Linked DNA regions of Homo sapiens: region 2 is linked to region 1. Evidence: fine-mapped expression QTL. A gene starts in region 1. The other region holds a variant in brackets. All regions are shown on one strand. Distances are from middle to middle.

The links. PIP is the estimated chance that this variant, and not a neighbour inherited with it, causes the effect.
Region 2: its variant is the best candidate, but not a certain one, in a credible set for the expression of CIRSR in stomach (GTEx, PIP 0.53).

Annotation. Positions count from the first base shown.
Region 1 is chr2:174,390,019-174,399,931 of GRCh38, reverse strand. CIRSR (corepressor of RBPJ and splicing regulator) reads left to right here and starts at 4,220. Exons shown (of 10, transcript NM_004882.4): 1 at 4,220-4,381. The coding sequence starts at 4,310. SCRN3 (secernin 3) reads right to left here and starts at 4,202. Exons shown (of 8, transcript NM_024583.5): 1 at 4,115-4,202; 2 at 1,490-1,657; 3 at 1-10. The coding sequence starts at 1,648. RefSeq lists enhancers at 3,274-3,774, 4,272-4,321 and a silencer at 7,708-7,872.
Region 2 is chr2:174,451,875-174,461,787 of GRCh38, reverse strand. It overlaps GPR155 (G protein-coupled receptor 155), which reads left to right. Exons shown (of 16, transcript NM_152529.7): 8 at 116-200; 9 at 296-386; 10 at 1,700-1,910; 11 at 7,947-8,051. Among named protein-coding and RNA genes, the nearest start is that of GPR155, 30 kb to the left of the region's middle. The variant C/A (reference allele first, on the strand shown) is at 5,452.

The DNA.
Region 1 (9,913 bases):
TATATGTACACTGTAAAAAAAAAAAAAAAAAAGTCATAGCAAGAACCACAAAACCAGAAAAGTTATCAAAATCCAGAATTTAAAAAAATCAGTCAGAAGACAAAACTGTTATGAAAGAGGTAAAGGAAATATAAGTAAATTGAAATTTTCAATAATAAAGGCATTACCCTTAAAACATATTCAGAATAACCCTAAAATATTTATTCATTCAAATATTTGCTGAGCATTTCCTATTATAAAACATTCTGCCAAGAGATATGTTAGTTACAAAGATGAATCAGATAAAGATCTCACTTTTGAGAAACTAAAACTTCTACATTAAGATAAAATAAAGTATAAAGTATTAGGGTCATGAAGTGAAGACAAGGTGCTATTGGAGCTCAGGAGAAAGATGGTCTCTAGCTGTAATATCTTGAAACATTTTTGTAGATGTGTGAGTTGAAGCTTAAGGAAGTAGTTCTCAACCTCAATATCCAGTGTTTCTTGATTAGTGATATAATTACTCACATGGTAGCCTTCGAATACAAGAGTTTTGTCATAGGAATCTCACATCACATTTTGAAGTCAACCATTAGGTATGCCCACAGCAATGAAAAGAATGAGAACCACTGGTTTACAGGACAGGCTATATTTAAATATGAAGAAATAAAGTGGAAGTGGTATCACAGATGAATAAGTGGTCTTAGCAAAAGAAAAAAATATGGCATAGGATACAGAAAAAAGTCTAATATTTAATATGTTTTAATATTAGAATATCAATAAAATAAAATCTAAAAAGTATGAATTAGCAACAATAGCATAATTTGAAGCTCTCATTTTAAGTTCCACATTAAATGGGTTTTTAAAATAAGTTTTTAAAGGATCCTTTAATTAATGTGTATACTACCAAGTGACTGCATAAAATGTATATTGATAGTGTTAACATAGGGCCTAATAAACCTTTTTTGATGTGTCATAAAACTGTCATTCCTAAAGTCTGGGATGACTTTCCTATTCTACATCAAGTAGAACCTAAGCCAATTCAGAATCAGAATCCTTTTTGTCCATCAAATTCCAGCTAACTCCAAGCTGAATTAAATGTTCATTCTCTTCCGCTGCCACAGCATGCTACTGTTACTTAAATTTAGCATTTAAACCATCCTATTTTATAATGGGGTATAATGCATACACATCTTATTGCTATACTAGACTCTAAGCTCCTGGAACAGAGTCTTGACAGCTGACTTTAAATCTCTTGCCCTATCTAACATGCTTGCATATGGAAAGCATTCAAATATTTATTCAAACAATGGATAATTTTATTATTGTTATTTCAACGTCCTCCGAATCACTGAAATAAAAGATCACAGTTTATTTCTGACTCATTTATTTTTCAAATGTAAACTCCTCAATTTTAACTTCTACAGTTTCTTCCAAATTGCTATGTATAGAAATAACTTTATGATATTTTTAAAAGGCATATTGCTAACAAAACATTTATTTCACCTACCTTAAGACGTTCTCCCAGGTTATCATGAACTACAGCAGGAAAATAAACCACCTCTTGTACTTCATCATAGAGTCTATCTGAATTTTTTCCAAAAATAATCCTGTTATCGACTGTTGCTGGAGGTAATGCCACGAAAGTGTCACAGGAAAAAGGTTCCATTTTTTTTAACTAAAAATTATACAGATGTTTTAAAATAAAAAGAACACTTTTAAGTATATAAAAATAAAGAGTTTTACTCAATGACCAAAGGATATTATTGCCATATCTAATTAAGGATGTTCATTAAAGCTTTGATTTTTTTATTTTTATTTTTTGGAGACAAGGTCTAGCTCTTTCACCCAGGCTGGAGTGCAGTTGTATGATCAGGGCTTACTGCAGCCTGGAACTCCTGGGCTCAGGAGATCCTCCCCCTTCTGCCTCCCAAAGCCCTGGGATTACAGGCATGAGTGACCGTGCTTGGCTGTTCATTAAAGTTTTAAATTTTGTATACTACAGCCTAAAAATCAGTAAGAATATGACTTGGGACTCAATCTGGTACTACAACTCAGTAAGAAAATGGCAATGAGAACTACCTTCTTCTACTGTATAGTTCACATTTATTCTCTAAGACCTTTCTCTCCTAAAGTCTTCCCTGAATTTCGTTTCACCATTTCCATATTTGGGAATCCGTGTACCTAGCTCTATTGTTGTAAAGGCTAGATTCCATTACATTCGTGTATATATAAATCCCTTTACTGGACAATGAGATCCTTGAGGGCTGGGAGTATGTCTTACTAATCTTTATATTCTCTTTGCTGGAACTTGTCTTATGGAAAAAAATCTTACGTGCCCAGTACTTCCTCAAAGGAAGGAAGAAGGGGTCTTATTTGAGCTGGGAAATAATACACATTATAATTCTGATGAGACTGAAATTTTGAAACAGACTCATTGATTCAGACAAAAATATGTCAATATAATTCCAAATTGCTGATATTTCTAGGAGAAAGTTCACATATTTAATTTATAAATCGCAATTATATACTTTAATATCTAGATTACCTCTTCAGTTGTAACTTGGAAAATCTTAGATCTTCACTTATAATAGAACACCTAAAGGTCCTTATTTTGCTGCCAGAACAGACACATTGTTTTACAGAGTTTCCTTCTTTCCTTTAATAATGGCAAAACCTTAAAATGGCTTTACACAGGCAGATGCTAGCAACTTAAAAACAAAATTTAAATATAATAAATGTTTCCTTAAAAAGAAAAGAAAATGACTAAATAAAAACTTCAGACTGAAACTCTTAAGGGTTTTCCTCTTCTCCTCAGTGACGAGAAGTCTGATGTCTTGATGGCTTCTGTTATTTTCTTTCTGTATTTCAACTCTTATGTCCTGGATCTCCTTCTATTTGTGTTTTATAGTTAGTTCTATCACTATATAACTTTGGCAGACTATTTAATCTCTCTCTTACCTATGCCTTCTGCCTCATCAGAAAAATAAGACACTATTTGATGGGCTGTTATGAGAACTTAATAAGGCAACACGTAAAGTGTTTTGCACAGTGCATAGAACATAGTAGATACTCACATGAAAGCTGTTATTGTTATTATTTGGTAGGAGAGAAAATTTCTCATAAAGGCTTATTCGTTTTTTGTTTTTTTTTTTTGATGGAGTTTAACTCTTGTTGCCCGGGCTGGAGTGCAATGGAGCAGTCTTGGCTCACTGCAACCTCCGCCTCCCGCGTTCAAGTGATTCTCCTGCCTCAACCTCCCGAGTAGCTGGGATTACAGGCGCGTGCCACCACACCCGGCTAATTTTTCGTGTTTTTAGTAGAGACGGGGTTTCACCATGTTGGCCAGGCTGGTCTTGAACTCCTGACCTCAGGTGATCCACCCACCTTGGCCTCCCAAAGTGCTGGGATTACAGGCGTGAGCTACCGCGCCCGGCCAAGGTTTATTCTTAACATTACCCTGATAGAGAACTTGGTTGGTGGATCACCTGCTGCAGTAGCAGCCACGTCCACTCAAAAACCTGGAGTCCCAAGGGCCATCAAGCTGCAATAGTAACCTGAGCTGCCTAACTGGGGTCGTAGGGAAAGCTAAGGAAACTTGCCCCCTGGTTAGAATTGCACCTAGCCCACTGAGGAGGTGAAGCCTTGAGAGATTTTACCAACTCCTAACGCGTATTCGTCATTCAATAAGTATTTATTGAACGTCTTTCGGCGCCAGTACCGTACAGCTGGGTACAAAATAGACAGGGCCTCCGTTCTTGCAGAGCTGTCTGTCATTCTATTTCACGCGCTCTTAGTTCAGCCGGCGCTTTCAGAAACATCATATTGTTGGATTCTCGCAAGCATACTACGGTTAGGGCCGGAATTATTATCTTCATAACATAGATGAGAAAAACAGTGCAGAAAAGCTTTTGCAGCTCGAGTCAGAGTCCACAGAAAGTAATGGGCTCGAGCTTCAAGCACCTTTGGTCGAAGGGCCGCCGCGGTCCACCCCGCACCCCGGCCCTGGGCGCTCAAACCGCAGCCGGTGCAGCTGGGCTCCGGAGCCCCTCGGTCAAGCAGTGCCGCGCCACAGTTGGGTCTTCCGGGTTTCTGTCTCAACTATGCACGCCCCTCCCCCGTGCGCGCCCCTCACCTGGCCTCCCAGCTACCCGAAGTGACAGGTGGACGGAGGGAGGAGTGGCCAGTGGAGGCATCAGTTGCCGGAAGCTGTCACCTTTGATCTCGGAAGTTCCCCCTTGCTGCTGGAAACGCAGTTCCGGTTAGGCGGCTGAGTTTGTTTACGTTGCTAACAGATCTAGCCCCTGCTTTCCCTAGTTCCAGTTCCAAGATGGGGAAATCCTTCGCCAACTTCATGTGCAAGAAAGACTTTCATCCTGCCTCCAAATCCAATATCAAAAAAGTGAGTAAACAGACCCGGGGAGGGATTAGGCCCACAGGGACCGCCTTCCCAGAGGCTGCTGGAAGTGAAAGTGATGGTGTCTCTGAGATCCCTAGGACAGCCTCCGCTTCTCTAGGCCTAAAGCCCTGGTGGTCTCGCCTTTCTCTGCTGAGCAGCTCGCTGACGCAGCGGGTCCTCAGCGTTTATTCTGCAACAGCGAGGAGACCGGTGGCCTAGAGAATCTTTGTCGGCCAGAATGCAAATCCATAATATGCGAAGACTAATGTCAAAATTCCTCAGTACTTCCTTCAGCTGATTCTGGTTTTTTGTCTTTTCGGATCCCAGGGATCACGGCTTCTGAACTCTACTTTTCTGTACAAAGAAGCCTCCCCGTTTACTTAAGATAGATCTTTAAAAAAATTACCTAATAATCTAGTGTCTTTTTGATGACTAAACTCGTTGAAGTTTAGTGTTTTACATAATTACAGGTCTACCAGTTGTAATACTTTGGTGAATATCATAGTAATGAAAAGCAAAAGAGTGAAGTAGAAAGAATCAGCTTTGGAGTCAAACCTGGATTCTAGTTATTCGAGCAGTCACTTTTAGCCTTAAGACCTTGCACAAAATATTTGTAATATCTGACCCTCAGTCTTCTAATCTGTAAATTAAGGATGATTGACTTAATTGTGAGGATTAAGTGAAATAGTGAAGATAAAGGATTTGAAACAACGTAGGCATCTATCACTGTGTCCACTACAGAGAGGAGGTGCTCAATAAAATGTTGATTGCCCCTACATAGAAACTTGTGAAAATAACTAAGCTTTTATTTGTTTTTAGAACGAGTTGAGGTGATGAGATACTGCTATATACTCTCACTTCTAGACCAGTGATTCTCAACTTTTTTTTCACTGTTACCTTCCTAAGGAGTCTTATTAAACATTTTTTCTTAATAACTCCCCCATGAAATTTTAATAACACAGATACACCTTGAAAGCTCTTTGGTAATCATCCAGCCCCATCTCCTCATTTTATAAATGAGGAAACAAATTTGCCAAGAGTTACACAGCTAGTTAAATGTTGTACCAGAACTAGGATCTGGAACACCTGATTAACCCAGTGATTTTTTTTCCACTGCACCAGTTTGTGTTTGTGTGGTTGCAACTGTGGGAGGGAGAGGTTTCTTGTATTTGGTTGGCTCAATAACTTTTGACACCAAACACAGACATTTCCTTTCTCTGCATACTTAGGGGGTCAGCTGTTACTATTTTTACAAGAATGAAGAGATTAGATGGAATTCAGGTGCTTGCTTATTTGCTGTTTATATTTAGAGACAAATATACCTGAGAAATCATAATTTTTTACTGGAACTTTTGACATTTCGCTTTATAAATTTCAATGTATCAGCTTTCTTACAAGAAAAAAGAAATCCACAGAGAATAACTTTTGCAAGTCCGCTATGAGAAATTCAGTAAAGCAGTTATAGGCTTAGAACCTACATTCTTCTCATCTGTGTAAAGTGTTATGTAAAATGTACCAAATATTGTTGGCCTCTTTGATCTGTTTTATACTTTTCCCAGGATAGAGGAGAAGAATGAAATGTTTTTGATTAGCAGACCTTTCTAGATAGTTAACACTTTATGGGGAGAGGGGGTGACCTCTAGCATTCTTTATTAACTAAGGATAAAGGAACTATATTAAATGAAGATAAATAGAAAAATTTATTAGGGTAGGAGGAAACTTTTGGAGGTGATGGATATGTTTATAGTGTAGATTGTGATGATGGTTTCACAGGGATATACTTGTCACCAAACTCAGGTTGTATACATTAAATATGTACAGCTTTTTATATGTCATACTCCAGTAAAGTTTTTTTTTTTTTTTAATAGAAGTGGAAGAAACAAAGGAGTTTGATCAAAGAGTGCAAAAGAGTTCCACCATGAAAATTTTAAGGGCCAGGTATGGTGGCTCATACCTATAATTCCAGCACTTTGAGAGGCCAGGAATTCAAGACCAGCATAGGCAACAAAGTGAGACCCCATCTATATTTAAAAAGAAAGAAAGAAAATTCTAATTGTAAAATTAGGCATGTTGGGTTTATTAAAGTCCAGTAGGTTCTTTTTTTCCTTGTTTGTTTTCAGTTTCCCAAGCTTATAAAAAGTCCAGTAGGTTTTAAGGTCTCATTTGTTCACCAAAAATAAGAGTGAATGCTGTATATCTGCTGGTCACTCTGTTGTGTATTGTTATGCGCTGCCTCAATCATTTATGTCACAGGATACACTGTTTTGTTCAGCTGTTCTTTTTTTTTCTTGATTTTGTTAATGAAGGAAGCAGTTAATTTACATTGTGGTCCAAGCTCTTTAGTCTTCTTGTGGACTGGCAAACAGTTCATAAACTGGCTATTGACAATTGCATCACTGTAAACTCCCTTTTTTGTGAAACTCTCTGTTCCCTTAGCTGTAATAACTACTCTCTTCTAGTTTTCCAGCTCTCTTATTAGACTGTTCTTTTCCCATCAACTTCACTGGATCTTTATTCTTAGCCTGCTCCTAAAATATAAGTGTTCCCCAGAGTTTCATCCTTGGCCCACTTCTTGCTTACTTAGTATGCTTGCCCCAAGCAATCACATCCAACTAGCCTGTTTTAACTAGCCTGTTTACTCATGACTCAAATCTGCAGTCCCAGTTTTCTCTTCTTAACTTTGATGTGGCTCAAGACAGCTATCTACTAGACATTTGCATCTTGATGTCCTATAGGCACCTCAAACTCAACATATCTGATATAAAAGTTTTTTACCCCAAATCAGCCCTTTTTATACTTGCTATCTCATATGGGTAGAAATATAGATAGTAAAACAGTCCCTCATCCTGTTGCCCAAACCAGAAGCTCAGGATTCATCCCTTTTCCCATCACTCCTTTATCTAGTCAATCACTGAATGCTATTGGTCTTACCTTCCAAATATCTCTTGAATCCATCTTTCCTTTCTGTCACTGCTGCTTGTGTCTTAATTCAGACCCTCATCATCTTTCACCTATATTGTTGCATTTCCTAAGTGGTTCTACTGCCTCCAATCTTGAGTCCTCTCAAATCCATTCACTACACAGCCATCAGAATAGTCATTTTTCATTTTAACAGCTCTGCTGAGATAAATTTACATATCATACAAACACCCATGTAAAATGTACAATTTAGTGGTTTTTAAAATGTATTCATGGAGTTAAGTAATCATTACCACAAACAATTTTAGAACTTTGTCATCACCCCAAAAAGAAACCCCCGCTGGGCATGGTGGCTCACACCTGTAATCTCTGCACTTTGGGTGGCTGAGGTGGGTGGATCACCCGAGGTCAGGAATTCAAGACAGCCTGGCCAACATGGTGAAACCCTGTCTCTACTAAAAGTACAAAAATTAGCTGGGTGTGGTGGCGGGCGCTTGTAATCCCAGCTACTTGGGAGGCTGAGGTGGGAGAATCGCATGAACCCGGGAGGCGGAGATTGCAGTGAGCCAAGATTGCGCCACTGCACTCCAGCCTGGGTGACAGTGAGACACTGACTCAAAAAAAAAGAAACCTGCATACCTGTTAGTCACTCCCATTTTTCCTTAACTCTTCTCCCTCTCTCCAGCCCTAGGCAAGCACTAATCTACTTTCTGTTAGTGGATTTGCCTATTCTGGAAATTCATTTAAATGGAATCATGCAATCTGTGGTCTTTTTTGACTGGCTACTCTCACCATAATGTTTTTGAAGTTTATCCATGGTATGGCATGTATTGGTACTTTTTCCTTTTTATTGCTAAATAATATTCCATTGTATGAATGTAAGTTATTTCGATAGAATTGTCTTTTTTTAAGCACAAATCTGATCTCTTTCAGCCTGTTATTAAAATATTACAGGATTGAGTCCAAGTAATCTCACTCCATCGTTTTTCTCCTTCTCCCCTCCTACTATTCTCCCACCTCAGATTTATTTATTTATTTATTTTTTGAGATGGAGGCTCACTCTGTTGCCCAGGCTAGAGTGCAGTGATGCAGTCTCAGCTCACTGAAGCCTCTACCTCCCAGGCTTAGGTGATTCTCCTGCCTCAGCTTTCCGAGTAGCTGGGATTACAGATACACACCACCACGCCTGGCTAATTTTTGTATTTTTAGTAGAGATGGAGTTTCACCATGTTGGCCAGGCTGGTCTCAGACTCCTGACTTAAGGTGATCTGCCCACCTCAGCCCAACCTAAGATTTTATATGTTAGTAATATTGAACTACTTACGTTCTATTTTATATCTCTGGGCCTTTGCCTGAGTCATTCTCTCTGCCAGTTATATCTTGCCCTGTTTTTTTCCTTGGCCATGCCTTGATCCTTTTCAAAACCCTGTCAAATGTGTGTGAAATTACCTGTGTATTGAGTTCTTGCAGCAAAATTTTTAATAGCAAAATACTGGAAATTTCTTAAGTGCCCATTTATACAGTATGAGATAAATAAATTATAAATTATGGTATAGTCCCACAATATGCAACTTTACCACCCAAAAGAAGAAAGTGTTTGTTTACTGATCCATATTAGTCTTGTATTAGTATTAGTCTGTTCTCATGCTGCTATGAAGAAATACCTGAGACTGGGTAATTTATAAGGAAAGAATTTTAATTGACTTGCAGTTCTGCAGGGCTGGGGAGGCCTCAGGAAACTTAAAATCATGGCAGAAGGGGAAGCAAACACGTCTTTCTTCACATGGTGACAGCAAGGAGAAATGCCGAGCAAAAGAGGAAAAGCTCCTTTTCTGATGGTTTTATCCATCAAATTTCCTGAGAACTCACTCACTATCACGAAAACACCATGGAGGTAACAGCCCCTTTTATTCAGTTACCTCCCATCGGGTTCCTCCCACGATACGCGGGGATTATGGGAACTACAATTCAAGATGAGATTGGGTGGGGACACAGCCAAACCATACCATTCCACCCCAGCCCCTTCCAGATCTCATGTCCTCACATTTCAAAACACAATCCTGCCCTTAACAACCAAAGTCTTAACTCATTCCAGCATTAACTCAAATGTCTAAGTCCAAAGTCTCATGTAAGACAAGGCAAGTCCCTTCCACCTATGAGCCTGTAAAATCAAAAGCAAGTTAATGACTTCCTGGATACAACAGGAGTACAGGCATTGGGTAAATACACCCATCCCCAATGGGACAATTTGGACAAAACAAAGGGGCTACAGGCCCCATGCAAGTCCAAAATCCAATAGGGCAGTCATTAAACCTTAAAGTGCCAAAAGGATCTCCTTTGACTTCATGTCTCATATCCAGGGTGTGCTGATGCAAGAGGTAGGCTCCCAAAGCCTTGGGCAGCTCTGCCCCTGTGGCTTTGCAGGGTATAACCCCTCTCCTGGATGCTTTCATGGGCTGGTGTTGAGTGTCTGTGGCTTTTCCAGGCACATGGTACAAGTTGGTGGATCTACTATACTGGGGTCTGGAGGACAGAGGCCCTCTTCTCGCAGCTCCACTAGGCAGTACCCCAGTAGGGACTCTGTGTGGGGGCTCCGACCCCACATTTCCCTTCCGC
Region 2 (9,913 bases), 62 kb before region 1:
AAACCACACACTACTATGAAATAAGCTTGGTTTAAAAAAATAAAAAGGAAATAAAGTTTCATAAAGTCTGATCAATGTTGAGTAACTGTCTCTCTTTCAATCTTCTTATTCTTAGGCCTTCTAGCAATTTCTTTGTTTCTTTTGAAAAAGCGAGAGAGGGTACAAATTCCTGTTGGAATAATCATAATATCTGGCTGGGGGTAAGTTGGTAGTTCTCTGTTTGCTTACACCTTTCCATATAGACAGTTACTATTCATCCTTTCTTTTTCTCTCCCAATATCACTTGTGATTACAGAATTCCTGCTCTCCTTGTTGGTGTTCTTTTGATAACTGGAAAACACAATGGAGATAGCATTGACTCAGCCTTCTTTTATGGAAAAGAACAGGTGGGAAGAGTTTACTGGCAGTTCTGTTCTTGAGAATGTCTCTTTTTAGCTCGTTATGTGCCTTGCTAGACTTATATTAAAATTAACTTTGAAAATCTATTTCAATTTATTGCATATCAGATTGGTGATCCTATATCACTTTGTCTCATCTAGAACATGAACATTTTACATGTCTAAGTCCATTTTTAGCTGAAGATTTCTAAATGCTTAAAACTTATTGAATGTTCTTAATCACACTTAGGAATTGTGTTTCCTGTGCTGGAGAAAAGAGTGATTAATTTAAAACCATTTAATAAGTTAGCAGTAATAATAAAGGTCAAATTCTTGACTCTTAATCCTATCATAAATATAAATTTCAGGACAAAACGTATCTAGGAAAAATATTCTTGAAAAGCTATAGAGTAGGTGGCTTGTGGGACCTGCAGAATTCTTTAGGAGTGGAGTCCAAAGATGTGTTTTTAAAAAGCCTCTCCACATAATTTTGATTTCTTACTCTTTTTTTCTGTTTTGCAATTTTGGATTTTATTGTGTTTTTGTGAGAATAAATAAGATTATACATATAAAAGATTTAGAGTAGTCTTGGCATCTGGTTAGTGCTCAATAAATATTAGCTATAATTATTTTTAATATCATTACCATAAAAACATCTTAGTGACTGAAGTATGCGTGAATTATACGTGGAAGTGAGCAGAAACAGGAGTAAAGAAAACATCGGAGAGAAATCATTTAGATTCCTTGTAAAGGAAACCAGTGGCTGTGTTGGTAACCAATTGTTATACATGAAAGAAGCATCTAAAACCTTGTGTAATTACAAGCAAACCCTAATTTCTCTCCAAGTAACTTACATTCCTTATATACACTTACCTTTTTAAAAGAGCTACTGTTCTAGAGTATTTAAAACTGTGGAGATATATTGTCCATCAAAAACGTGCCCTAAGATGGCTGGGTGCGGTGGCTTACACCTGTAATCCCAGCAGTTTGGGAGGCCGAGGCGGGTGGGTCACGAGATCAGAAGATTGAGACCATCCTGGCTAACACGGTGAAACCCTGTCTCTACTAAAAAATACAAAAAATTAGCTGGGTTGTGGTGGCGGGCGCCTGTATTCCCAGCTACTTGGGAGGCTGAGGCAGGAGAATGGCGTGAACCTGGGAGGAAGAGGTTGCAGTGAGCCGAGATTGTGTCACTGCACTCCAGCCTGGGCGACAGAGCAAGACTCCATCTCAAAAAAAAAAAAAAAAAAAAAAAATGTGCCCTAAGATTATCAAGATGAAGTTGTGAAAAGTGGCCTGATATCTTTTTTTCATGTCGGCAGATGATCACCACAGCAGTCACCCTGTTCTGCAGCATCCTGATAGCTGGCATATCCCTCATGTGCATGAACCAGACTGCCCAAGCAGGAAGCTATGAAGGTTTCGATCAGTCTCAGAGCCACAAAGTGGTGGAGCCTGGAAATACTGCTTTTGAGGAGAGTCCAGCACCAGTAAATGAACCAGAACTTTTTACAAGCTCTATTCCAGAAACAAGTATGATCTTTTTAATTTTATTTTTATTTATTTGAGACAGAATCTTGCTCTATCATCCCGGCTGGAGTGCAGTGGCATGATCTCAGCTCACTGCAACCTCCGCCTCCTGTGTTTAAGCGATTCTGCCACCTGAGCCTCCAGAGTAGCTAGGACTACAGGTGCCTGCCACCATGCCCTGCTAATTTTTGTATTTTTAGTAGAGATGGGGTTTCGCCATGTTGCCCAGGCTGGTCTCGACCTGCTGAGCTCAGGCGATTCACCCGCCTCGGCCTCCCACAGTGCTGGGATTACAGGCATGAGCCAGCCTGATCTTTAAATATAAAGAAACTGCTACATGCCTTTATAGCATGTATCCTAAATGTTTTGTTTATGGGAAACTTCCTTGAACTAGTTTGAATATCATGAGTGCTTGTCAAATGAAGAATTTGAATCATAGTCAACAAACTTGCTTGTAAAATTATTCATTAGATTTTTGTTTATAAGTCTTATTGTGAGTATACACTTTTGTTAAATCCTAAAACTTCCCTGGACCTGAGAATATAGAAAAAAGTAACAACTGAAGGAAGGCCCTAACTAGGAAACGAAGCACATACATAAGTTAATTTAACAATATTGTATCAGGCAAGCACCATCAATAATATGAACTAAAGGAGGCCTGTTTAAAGCCAGATTAATGATGTAAGTCAGTTTTGGGCAAACTATAGTCCATAGGCCAAATCTGGCCCACCACCTGTTTTTGTATGGTCCACCAGCTAAAAATGTTTTTTTTCTTTGTTTGTTTATTTATTTATTTTTGCCACAGAGTCTCGCTCTGTTACCCAGGGTGGAGTGCAGTACCCTTGGCTCACCGTAACCTCTACCTCCTGGGTTCAAGCAATTCGCCTGTCTCAGCCTCCCCAGTAGCTGAGACTACAGTCGCACGCCACCACGCCTGGCTAATTTTTGTATTTTTAGTAGAGATGGGGTTTCACCATATTGGTCAGGCTGGTCTAGAACTCCTGACCTCAGGTGATCCACCCGCCTCGGCCTCCCAATGTGCTGGGATTACAGGTGTGAGCCACTGCACCCAGCCTAAAAATGTTTTTTACATTTTTAAAGGGTTGAAGAAAAATTAAAAGAAGACAAATACTTCGTGACTCTTAAAAACTACATGAAATTTTAATTTCATGTCCATAATTTTATTGAAACATAGCCATGCTCATTCATTTATATATCATCTATGGCTACCTTCATGCTATAATGGCAGAGTTGAGTCTTTGGGGCCTATACTAAGGCAGTAGGTATTGGATAAACAGGAGAGGCCAAACTCAGGCAAAGTTGTATTGACAGGGTTTGGTACTTGATTAGAAGCTGGGTGAGGGCTAAGAGAGAAACTGAGAACAACTTCCAGAAATCTAGTTTAAGTGAATGTATAATTGTGGGTATTACCTAAGAAGAATTCACAGAGAACAGAATATGTAGGGGAAGATAATGAGTTCAATTTGACCCTTCTAAGTTTGAGATGCATGAGACACCAAGGATTCATTTTAGTTTCTCAGTGTACCTCTTAAAATGGGATGCTTAGATCTGAATATAACATTCCAGTTACCATGGTCCTAGGACACAGTGAGCATTCAATATTTGATGAATGCTTGTTGACTGAGTGAAGAATAAGAGAATCATTCCTGTCCTTACTTAGAAAAGAAACTTTTAATTCTGCCTAACATTGCATTAACTTATTCTGATGATTTCATCTTGAATTTATGAGCAACTAAAAACCTGCCTCCCACCCCGAGTACATTACTGAACAGTTTCTCTCCAATCCTGAATTTTTGCATCTGGCTTTTAAAAGTCTAGGACAAAGCTGGGTATGGTTGCTCACACCTGTAACCCCAGCACTTTGGAAGGATTGCTTGAGCCCAGGAGTTCAAGACCAGCCTGGGCAACATAGTGAGACCCTGACTCTACAAAAAATAAAAAATTAGCTGGATGTGGTGGTACACACCTGTAGTCCTAGCTACTCAGGAGGCTGAGGCAGGAGGATTGCTTGAGCCCAGGAGGTCGAAGCTGCAGTGAGCCATGGTCACGCCACAGCAATCCAGCCTGGGCAATAGACGTGATCCTGTCTTTAAAAAAAAAGTCAAGGCCTGGTGCGGTGGCTCACACCTCTAATCCCAGAACTTTGGGAGGCTGAGGTGGGCGGATCACAAGGTCAGGAGTTTGAGATCAGCCTGGCTAACATGGTGAAACACCATCTCTACTAAAAATACAAAAATTAGCTAGGTGTGGTGGCGGGTGCCTGTAATCCCAGCTACTCCAGAGGCTGAGGCAGAAGAATCGCTTGAACCAGGGAGGCAGAGGTTGCAGTGAGCTGAGATCGTGCCACTGCATTCCAGTCTGGGTGACAGAGCAAGACTCTGTCTCAAAAAAAGTCTAAGACAGGACTTCAGTATTTGCCTAAGCCTATCAGGACTGAGATTTCTTTGTGTCTTGATTTGTAATCAAATATATTAACTTATTTATTGTATGGTGCTTCTCTTCTCTTCTTCTCTTCTTTTGAAACAAAGTCTTTCTCTTCTCTTCTTTTGAAACAAAGTCTTTCTCTGTCTCTCAGGCTGGAGCGCAGTGGAGCAGTCTTGGCACACTGCAGCTTCCACCTCCTGGGTTCAAGTAATCCTCCCTCTTCAGCTTCCCAAGTAGCCGGGTCTACAGGTGTGTGCCACCATGCCTGGCTAATTTTTGTATTTTTAGTAGAGGTGGGTTTTCACCATGTTGGCCAGGCTGGTCTCGAACTTCTGACCTCAAGTGATCTGCCTGCGTCAGCCTCCCAAAGTGCTGGGAATACAGGCATGAGCCACTGCGCCTGGCCCAGTTTTCTTTTTTAAAAGAAATAAAACTTACCAATAAAGTCAGAATGTTTGTTAGAATCTTTCATTCCTGTTAACTCCAGAAGTAACCACTATTATGAATTTGGATTGTATCCTTCCAGAGCACAATTTTACTATACTTTTACAATATGTGTGGTTTTCCATCAACAATATATAGTATTTTTATATGCTTTTACATTTTTATATAAATCTTATACTGTAGTTGTCTTCTTGCACTCAATATTTTTGAATTCATTTTGTAGATGTAATCAATGATATGCATATACCAAATTTTATTTATTAATTTCCTTATTGATGGATTAAGTTGCTTTAAAATATTTTGCTATTAGAAACAATGCTGTAATGTACAGCTTTATTCACATCTCCTTGAGTATACATCAAGATACATCAAGATTATACCTAGGATGTTGCTGAGTGCAGTGTTTCACACCTGTAATTCTAGCACTTTGGGAGGCTGAGGCAGGTGAATTGCCTAAGCTCAGGAGTTGGAGACCAGCCTGGGCAACATGGCAAAACCCATCTCTACAAAAAATAAAAAATTAGCTAGGCATGGTAGCATGTGCCTGTAGTCCGAGCTACTCAGGAGGCTGAGGTGGGAGGATCACCAGAGCCTGGAAAGCAGAGGCTGCAGTGAGCCAAGAGTGCACCACTGCACTCTGGCCTGGGAAACGGAG[C/A]GAGACACTGTCTCAAAAAAAAAAAAAAATTATACCTAGGATGGTAATTCCTGGGTCACAGGAAATAGGTAAGTTCCCATGGCTTTAATGTGAACCCTTTGTACTTTGTTCCTAATGTTGCATCTCTAACCTGACCCCTTTATACAGATCCAATCCCAGATTTCCTGCTGTCTACACATATATTATTTATATCTCAGCCAGGCGTGGTGGCTCACACCTGTAATCCCAGAACTTTGGGAAGCCAAGGCAAGCAGATCACTTGAGGTCAGGTGTTTGAGACCAGCCTGGCCAACATGGTGAAACCCCGTCTCTACTAAAAATACAAGAATTTGCCAGGCTGTGGTGGCAGACGCCTGTAGACCCAGCTACTCGGGAGGCTGAGGCATGAGAATCGCTTGAACCTGGGAGGCAGAGGTTGCAGTGAGCCAAGATTGTGCCACTGCACTCCAGCCTGGGTGACAGAGCGAAACTTCATCTAAAAAAAAAATAAAAAATTATTTACGTCTCTTTCTGAATACGTGGACAGCACTTGTTCTCTTTGTCAAAGGTACTGGAGCTTTTTAAACAAACAATTATCTTTCTTTTAGTGGTTCCATCATTCTTTAGAACTTCCCAGCTCAGCAACATCTCTGCTGTTTCCCCTTGAGGTGAATTAGCCATTCAGGGCGTGGAGTTCTCCCTCTGCAGGGTCCCCCTCCTCCCCCTGACCTCCCATCTCCCGACTTGGGCCTCCAGTCTCTCTGCTGGATTCTTGTAATTCCCTCCTAACTGAACTTCCTGTTTCTTGTCACTCTGGTCCAGTCTGTTTTATAAGGGAAATGGCCAAATTAACCTTCCTCACGGAGTTCTGGCCACATCAGGCTCCTGCTTCAGAGGCTGCAAGGGCCTTGCAGTGCCCGTGATGCCCAAAGCGCTGCACGTAGTGCCCAAGCCCTTCCACTGCCAGCCATATTCCCTCTCCGAGCCTATTCTGCCACCTCTCCCTGCAGCTGCCTGAGCTACCCAGTGAACCTTCCATTCTTTGGTCCGTCCAGCACTCGGCACTCATGTTATCACTTCTCTTCAGGGCCTTTAAAACCGAAGCTCACTAATTTCTCTGTTTGGTCATTTGTTTGTGTTTTTGTTGTTGTTGTTGTTGTTATTTTTATTTTTATTTTTTTGAGATGGAGTCTCGCTCTGTTGCCCAGGCTGGAGATCATTGTGTAATGATCAAATCAGGGTAATTAGCATATCTATCACTTCAAAATGTATAATTTCTTTGTTGTAGGAACATACAAAATCCTCTCTTCTATTTTGAGATGTACAGTATCTTTGTTGACTATAGCCACCATACTGTATGATAGGGCACTAGAACTTATTCTAATGTAACTTTGTACCTGTTGACCCCATCCCTGCCACCCCCTACCTGCCCAAGTATCCGGTACCCACTACTCATCCTTCCTTCCTTTCCCTTCCTTCTCTTCCTTCCTTTCCCTTCCTTCCCTTCCTTCCTTTTCCTTCCTTTCTTTTCCTTCCTTTCCCTTCCTTCCCTTCCCTTCCTTCCCTTTCCTTCCCTTTCCTTCCTTTCCCTTCCTTCCTCTCCCTTCCTTCCTTTTCCTTCCTTCCCTTCCCTTTCTTCCCTTCCTTTCCTTTCCTTCCTTTCCCTTCCTTCCCTCCCTCCCTCCTTCCCTCCTTCCCTTCTTCCCTCCCTCCTTCCTTCCTTCCTTCCTTCTTTCCCCAGGCTGGAGCGTGACTGCTCCCTGTAATCTCAAACTCCTGGACTCAAGCAGTCCTCCCACCTCATCCTCCCAAGAAGCTGTACTATAGCCATATGCCAGCATGCCCAGCTATTTTTTAAAAAGCTTTTTGTAAAGACAGAGTCTTGCTGTATTACCCAGGCTGATCTTAGGTTCCTAGCCTCGGCTGGGCATGGTGGCTCACACTTGTAATCCCAGCACTTTGGGAGGCCGAGGCGGGCAGATCGCCTGAGGTCGGGAGTTCTAGACCAGCCTGGCCAGCATGGTGAAACCCTGTCTCTACTAAAAATTCAAAAATTAGCTGGGCCTGGTGGCAGGTGCCTGTAATCCCAGCTACTCGGAAGCTGAGGCGGGACAATCGCTTGAACCCAGGAGGCGGAGGTTGCAGTGAGCCGAGATTGCGCCACTGCACTCCAGCCTGGGCAACAGAGTGAGACTCCACCTCAAAAAACAAAAAAACAGAACAAAACAAAACAAAATCCTAGCCTTAAGTGATCCTGCCACCTCAGCCTCCTGAAGCAACAGGTGTAAGCTACCATGCCTGGCCACATTCAGTGCTTCTATGAGATTAAGTTTTTTTTATTTTGTATATGAGTGAGAACATTTGAATACTTTTGGATAGATACCATGTGAAAACTATTGAGGCTACATGGGAAGTGTGTGTGAGTGGATTTTGTTTTGTTTTCTTTGGCATTTCTTAAAATTGTCCATTTCTGTTGTGGTTGGGCTCTACTCTCACATACTATTTGATTGATATAGGTTGCTGCTCCTGCTCCATGGGAAATGGTGAATTACACTGCCCATCAATAGAGCCAATAGCAAACACAAGCACCAGTGAGCCTGTGATTCCTTCGTTTGAGAAAAGTAAGTGCCTCTGGACTATGAGGATGGGATTAAGGGACAGAAGATTCCTTATTCTTTTTTTTTTTTTTCTTTTTTTTGAGACGGAGTCTTGCTCTGTCACCCAGGCTGGAGTGCAGTGGCGCTATCTTGGCTCACTGCAAGCTGTGCCTCCCAGGTTCACGCCATTCTCCTGCCTCAGCCTCCTGAGTAGCTGGGACTACAGGCGCCCACCACCATGCCCAGCTAATTTTTTGTATTTTTAGTAGAGACGGAGTTTCACTGTGTTAGCCAGGATGGTCTCGATCTCCTGACCTCGTGATCTGCCTGCCTCGGCCTCCCAAAGTGCTGGGATTACAGGCGTGAGCTACCACACCCGGCCAGAAGATTCCTTATTCTTATCCCTCAAAAGAACTCTACATAGAATATCTATAGAAGTTACAAACATCAAGAATATAGATCCTCAATTAAGAGCAAAGAAGTGCTAATAGGGAATAATTGTGCATAGACAGAATACTCACTTTAAAAAATAAAGTTCTCACAAAGTGATAATAGGTAGTGTCATACACACATTTTCCAATAAATTTAACCCAAGTGACAAATCCAGGAAGTTTGCCCTAAAGGGCATTTTGGTGGGAGGTGGAGAGAGGGAAGCTTTTTTCTTGTTTTAGAAACAGACTTTTCCCCCATTCTCATCCCCTAGGACCAGGACTAATTAATTAGTTCTTAATTATATTTTGAATCTTTATGCTTTAAATATGGCCATTCTTATAAAATAAGGAACAAACACCTTTAAAAGTAATAACCTCTTGGCCAGACAAGGTGGCTCACGCCTGTAATCCCAGCACTTTGGGAGGCCGAGGCGGGTGGATCACAAGGTCAGGAGTTCGAGACCAGCCTGGCCAACATGGTGAAACCCCGTCTCTACTGAAAATACAAAAATTAGTTGGGTGTGGTGGTAATCCCACCCAACTGTAATCCCAGCTACTTGGGAGGCTGAGGCAGGAGAATTGCTTGAACACAGGAGGCGGAGGTTGCAGTGAGCCAAGATCACGCCACTGCACTGCAACCTAGGTGACAGAGCAAGACTCCATCTAGGGGGAAAAAAAAAGTAATAACCTTTTGACTAAGAGGCTGAATTACATTTGTGGCCTAAATTTCAAATTATTCAAAACAACCGAACATACTTATGTGGAATTGCAGTGCATTTTTCGTTGATTATACTTATTTATAATCAAACTAAAAAGGGAAACCCCCAAAAATGCTCTTTTTGATAAGGCCTATGTCAACTGTATTATTGCTAAAGGCATTATGTTTTTATATAAGAAATGTAAGGATTATAGAAAACAATGTATGCAAATCACTTAGCACAGTATGTGGTATACATAGTAAATGGTCATTAAAATATGTAGTAGCAGTAGTAATTATTGTTATTCAGATGGGATTTATATTTGGCTATCTGCTGGCAAGGAATGAATCTTAAATAATAATAGAATTCACATTTCCATAAAAAGTAGTGAAAACATATCAGATATGAAACATTCATTGACTTTTTTTTCTTTTACAAGAAACCCTTTCTGGCAGTTACACTGTCTTTGTTTTATCTGTCTGCTTTTTTTCTAAAATCGTTTCTTTACATCAGAATTCCCAAGGTTTTCCTCCTTATTGTTATCTCCCTACACAATATACCTAGTAGTAAAATCCATTAACAAATTCAACATGTAATCTGATTTGGCAAATTTCTTTTTCCCTCCCCAAATCTCCTTAGGCTTTGCTTATCTGTCATTTTCTTCATTAATAATGTTGATTCTCGCCTGAGCGTGGTGGCTCACTCCTGTAATCCCACCACTTTGGGAGGCAAAGGCAAGAGGATCGTGCTTGAGCCC